Regions from separate parts of the Homo sapiens genome. Here region 2 is linked to region 1. The links come from fine-mapping of genetic effects on gene expression. A gene starts in region 1. The other region holds a variant in brackets. All regions are shown on one strand. Distances are from middle to middle.

Region 1 (2,901 bases):
CCCACAGGAGTGCGTTCCCCAAAGTACCTCCTGCAGCTCACTTTCTCCTTTTTCCTGGGGTGATGGTGGGGCAACCCCAGACTAACAGAGCAGCAACCCTGGGTCCCAGTTCATTCGCTCCTGCCCAGAGGCAAGGCTTTTACTTTCCACACCTGTCCAATTAGCAGGCTAGTCTGAGCCATCCTTGGTACGTGACCTGCTCTGACATGCCTGGCTCACCCTGGGGCGGTTACTTGGCTGGCTACAGAGGGCGCACCCTCCATGATCTCAGTTTCCCACTGGCTTGCAAGCGGGGTGGAGGCCTGTCCAGGGTCACACAGCTGGCCACAAGCAGGGAGGAGCCAGGACTGTGTCTGCTGATCCTCACCCTGGGACCTCCCTCCATCCCACTTCCTGTGAGGCCACTGCTGGGGCAGACCGTTAGCCAACACCGTCCTCCTGCACCTGGGGTTTATCAGCTTGAGACTCGCTTATCAGTTTCCTCATCAGCCTCCTTCCCCAGCGGTTCCCTCCCGGGCATGATCTCTTGTCAGTTTTCCTGGTTGACACTAGCACCCCTTGGGCCCGCTGGAGAGTGGCCACCTTCCCTGGGACGGGCCCACCTTCAGCTGGGTGACCCTTCCACCCAGCTAATCCATCTCGAGCCCCCCACCTGTTGATGCAGCCCCCACCCAGCTGACCTGCCTTTGAAGCTGGCACTGGGACTTAGGAACCACTTCTGCCAGGTACAGGCTCCATCTGGACCACTCTGCCTCACTGTTGCAGTCAACCCCACCAGCGATTTGTTCACCCCACTCCCACTACGACACCTTTAGGACTTTCGTGTCCTCCGGTGGCCCCGTCTCCTGGGGTCCCCTGTACACACACATCCGTAAGAAGGGACTTGCTCAGTCCCGCGGGACCTTGTTCCTTCCCCCTTTGACGAAAGCCCCCTTTAACCTGTCTCCCTTGGGACCTGTTTACTTCGCCCCCCCCCCGACCTGTGCCCCCCACTTGCTCTGCCCCACCGGGTGTGACCCCTCCCGGCCCCTCACCATGGCGAAGCCCGAGAGCAAGGCAGACGTGCGGCTGGAAGCTTTGAGCTTGGCCCGGCTGAGGTAGAGGCGGCGCCAGCTGAGCGCCCGCAGCGAGTGCTGACTGGCCCCCATGAGGTCCAGGTAGCCGCGGTGCACGAACTCCCGGTACGTGGCCGAGCCTGCAGGGCTCTCGCCCTCAGGGTTCAGCGGGGCCTGCTCGCCCGCGTCCCCCTCGCCGCCCTTCATCCTGGGGGGGGGGCGGCACCAGGCGGTCACTACGGGGCGGAAGCGCCTCGGGGGCCCCAGCCGGGCCGGCCCAAGCCCGGGGGCGGCCCCATTCCCAGACAGGACGAGCAGGATGCAGGCGGCGGGCGCCCAGGAAGAGGCACCCCCAGTGGAGCAAGAAAAGCAGCGTCTGCGGGGAGCCCCAGGAGCCGGAGCGGGACAGCGGAGGCCAAAACAGGAACTGGGACAGAGGCGGAGCCGGGGCTAGCCACATGATGGGGTGGAGCCGGGGACCAAGTCCCCGCAGTCCCGGGCCCGCAGAGATTCCCCGCGACCCCTACCCACCAAGAACGTTATCCAAGCGCCCGGACCCCACCGAGGTGCACGCCAACCCCAGCCCCCTCCAAGGTACAGCTGGACACCCCAGGTGTCCACACTTCCAAATCCCTCCCAAAATGAGTCCAGGAGAGGTGAGCCCACTCATCTGTAGGTAGGGACCCCGCAGATACACACACGAACTCCGCAGCCCCGGCTGGAAGATTTTGAGTTTTATAGCAAACCGTATTGTACAGACCCGGGGCCCAGGGGCCCAGCCCGGCTGGGTCCCCCGCTTGCCCCTCGCCGGGCTGCCTCTTCCCTCCCCCAAGCGGCCCCATTCTCAAGCCTCTCGCTATCCCCAGGCCCCACCCCTCCGGCCTTTGGTCCGCCCAGCCCTCCCCCCACCCGCGCACCTCCCTGTTACCTGAGGTATGTGGATAGATCTCCCCTCCCCTACATGGTAAGCCCCGGCCCCCCGGAGGCCTGCGCGGAGGGGCGGGACCTGGCCCGGCTCATCCCCGGGGTCCCGAAGCCCCACCCCGCGCTCGAGGAAGGGGCAGGGAAGGAGGGCCAGCAGAGTCTGTTACTAGGTTCCCATGGCAACTAAGAGGGGGCCATTTCCAGCCTTAGCACTGGCATCGGGAGGTGTCCGTTGGCTGCTATTTCCATGGCAACCAGGAGTGGCAGTTCCCTGGGCAAATGGGATACAAGTTTCCATGACGATGAAAGAGTGGGAAGAGCCAGGCTGGAGGAGTCCCATGGTCCCCATTCTTGGGCTGGCGCCCCCAGCCATAATGCGGGTCCGGCGGGTGCCGCCGCTCAATACAGTAAAACAAGAACAAGCCTGGGGGTGGCGCAGTCCCAAATGGGCGCCCACCGGCCCGGTCTCAGGTCTCAGTCCAAGCTGGTCCAGTCCCCTCACACCCCGGCTCCCCCAGGTCCGAGATTCCCCCGGTTCAAGTAACACTTCAGTACAGATGAATGTTCAAGTATTGTGCGGAGAGGCGGGCAGGGGGTTGGGGCGCCCCTCGCCACTCCCCTGGGCCGCGAGCTGAAGAGCGGCTGCCCGCGGCCCCCACTCCTTGCAATAGCTGCCGTTTTCAGTGACGTTCAAGGAGTCAGGGTCAGGGGGAAGGAACTGAAGCCTGGGGAGGGGGGAAGCAGAGAGGTGACCCCCAAGGGGGTATTGCTGTCCCCACACCTGCTCTCATCCCCACCTCCAGCTCAGCCCCAGCTTGCCCCTGGTTCCCCTACCTCTGACACCTGGATCCCCAATTGCTCCTCCGGTTTTCCTTTTGTGGCCCCACCCCCACCCCCCACTCCAAGTAACTGGTCTTTGTTC
Region 2 (2,901 bases), 42 kb before region 1:
AAACAGACCCAGGCAGCCCCACCCCCACGGCAGACCCTGGTGTCCCTGGACCTCACCGGGCCATGGACCCCCCCCCCGTCCCCGCACGTAGATCGCAGCAGGCGTGATTACACATGCACACCAACATGCATGCCGCCGGCACATGCTCGAGACGTGTGGACACCCCAGCGTGCGTGTGCGTGTGATGTGTGTGATGCACCAGAGCACCCCCTCCACCCCCACCTTGGGTGTGTGTGCGTGGTCTGAGCTTCCCCCTTCACCGGGGCTGTTGTGTAGACTGCAGCCAAGTGTAACACAGCAGTCCATCACGCCCTCTCTGTCCTCTGTGAACAGTGTGTGTGCGTGCGTGAGACCACAGATCTGTGGACACACCATTTGTGTACGTGGAATTTTGTGTTTCAGTGTTTGAACCTAATGCAACAGCAACAAAGCCACTGATACCTGAGCCCTTTGTGTCTGCTACAAACCAGGCAGGTGGTGTGTGTGGACTCACACTCACATTCTCAGAGGATCCAGGGAGGCCCAGGTACACACAGGCCATGGCAGACACCCCATGTCTTTGTTACCCCAGGGGCTGTGGCATGTCCCAGGAGGGTGTGCATGTGTGTGTGTGTGTGTGTGTGTGTGTCCAGGATGTGCCTGAAGTATTGATAGGTCTTCTCAGATAGAGCCCTCCACACTGTGGACTGGACACCTGTTTTGGGAGGGCACAGAAATGTGTATTTCTTGCTACCTAGAATGCAGCTGTGTGTGTGTGGCGTGCGTGTGTATGCACGTGTGTGTGTGTGTTAGGGGCTCTCTACATGGTGTGCTTTTTAATTTTTTTTTGTTTTTTGTTTTTTGTTTTTTTCGAGACGGAGTCTTGCTCTGTCACCCAGGCTGGAGTGCAGTGGCGCAATCTCAGCTCACTGCAACCTGTGCCTCCCTGACGCAAGCGATTCTCATGCCTCAGCCTCCCAAGTAGCTGGGACTACAGGCGCCTGCCACCACGCCTGGCTAATTTTAGAATTTTAGTAGAGATGAGGTTTTGACATGTTGGCCAGGCTGGTCTCGAACTCCTGACCTCAGGTGATCCGCCCACTTTGGCCTCCCTAAGTGCTGGCATTACAGGCCTGAGCCACCACGCCTGGCCTACATGATGTGTTTCTGTCCTGCCTGACCTACATGGTGTGTTTCTGCCCTGCGTATTACACACACACACACACACGTGCGTGCACACACACTTCTAAGGACGTGGCCCCATCTGGCTTTGTCTCTCCAGTTGTCCTTGCCCTGCCCCCCTCCCCAGAGGTGCTGCCCAGTGCTGGTGTGGCCACACACGGCTACATCATTGTGCAGGCAGAGCTCCCTGCCTGCCCAGCCTCAGGGCTCTGCA[T/C]GCTCACACCTAGATCCTCATCTTCCTCCATGTCTCTGCCCAGCATAGCCCCGAGCCCCTGGAAGCTGGTACCCCTCAGTGTGCTCACACGTGGCAAGGCCGAGGTGGCCCCAGGCAGGGGCCATACCAGGCACAAACCATGCACGCTGGCATGGGTGCGGGGATCACACGAATGCCTCCTGGAAGGAAAGGGCTACTTGTAGGAATGTTACTGATGAGGCAAGATGCCAAGGACTTCCCTGCAGGGATCAAAGATCAGGACACGACCCCTTCCTCACACACCCACCTCAGACCTGGGAGAGGACTGTGTGTCCCCCACTGCCCCATCGGATGCTCTGGGCTCTGCCTCAGGGAACTCGGGTTTGGGGAAATGTCTATTTCAGAAGTACTGGAGTGGCCAGTGTGGCAGTGGCCACTCAGGGTGGGCTGGGTCCTGAGACCCATCCCCGACACCTCTCCTGCTGAACCCTCAGGCTGCTCCCCACACCAGGGTGTGACTGAGGGGTACACAGGCCTGGATTTCTGGTGTGAGGAAGGGGCTAGCACCTCCCCTGTTGTGTAGCCAGCACAGGCACAATTTGTGGGTTTGGTGGCAGGTAGGTGGTGCGTGGGAGAAAGGACAGTGTTAGAGGTCCCCACTCCGTGGTCTAGGATCATGAAAGGTGAACACACAAGTACACAAATGTGCCATGCCCTGGCATGGGGCTTATGTGTGCACAGGCAAGGCACTCGGTGTGTGTGTGCGGACCCCAGGGTCCCAGGTCATGTGAAGCGTACGTGTGTGTGCATTGTATGTGTGTGTACATTGTGTGTGCATTGTGTGTGCATGTGGCCAAACAGATGTGACCTCCCAGAACACAGTACCCCTCCACCTCTACCCGAGCTCAGACAGCCGAGCTCTCCCTTGTCCTGTGTGTGTGTCAGTGTGGCCACGTGCGTAACCCCAGGTGGGCTGTCCTGAGCTGGGGGCCTGCCTGTCCCTTCCCAGAACGCCCCTCTGCAGGACAGGAAGTCTGCCCCAAGTCTGGCCACGGCCCTCCTGCTCCCATCTCGGGCTGCTTGGGAGACATCAGAGCAGGCCCCAGCCCCCAGTCCCCTCTTCCGGCCGCCTGGACAGGACCCCCATTCAGCCCAGGTGTTTCCGGAAGTCCCACGGCCTTGGGGCCACAGGAGAAGGGTTGAAGCGTGGCTGGGGCACCACTCCCCCCACCTGGAGTGGCATTGGGCCCACAGCTGCCCATCTCTGGGCCTCAGGTGGACCAGGGGATCTCTAAGGGTCTGCTGTGCCCTTTCTATGCGTCCTCCACATCCTATGATGTGCCTGCTTGTTGGCTGCTGTCTGTGTGCGTCCTGGCATGTTGTCTGGAGGCTGGTGTCTTTTGCATGTTCTTGGACAAATGTGTGCTACCTGCCCAGGCGCCTGCAACCATTGAGCCCACATGTGCCCCACGTGTGCCCTGCGGGTGGTCCCGGGCCTGGCCAGGGCTCAGTGCTCCTCTTCCCCCTCCTCCCTGTTCCCACCCCTC

What was found. PIP is the estimated chance that this variant, and not a neighbour inherited with it, causes the effect. A credible set is the group of variants that fine-mapping cannot tell apart.
Region 2: its variant is the best candidate, but not a certain one, in a credible set for the expression of ORAI3 in whole blood (TOPMed, PIP 0.70).

What each region holds. Positions count from the first base shown.
Region 1 is chr16:30,947,651-30,950,551 of GRCh38, reverse strand. It overlaps ORAI3 (ORAI calcium release-activated calcium modulator 3), which reads right to left and starts at 1,484. Exons shown (of 2, transcript NM_152288.3): 1 at 1,035-1,484. The coding sequence starts at 1,262. FBXL19 (F-box and leucine rich repeat protein 19) reads right to left here. Exons shown (of 11, transcript NM_001382779.1): 11 at 1,769-2,901. RefSeq lists enhancers at 1-128, 129-358, 647-1,165 and silencers at 1,089-1,138, 1,179-1,438, 1,809-2,058.
Region 2 is chr16:30,989,818-30,992,718 of GRCh38, reverse strand. STX1B (syntaxin 1B) reads left to right here. Exons shown (of 10, transcript NM_052874.5): 10 at 1-2,901. Among named protein-coding and RNA genes, the nearest start is that of HSD3B7, 6.1 kb to the right of the region's middle. RefSeq lists enhancers at 1,392-2,035, 2,036-2,679. The variant T/C (reference allele first, on the strand shown) is at 1,376.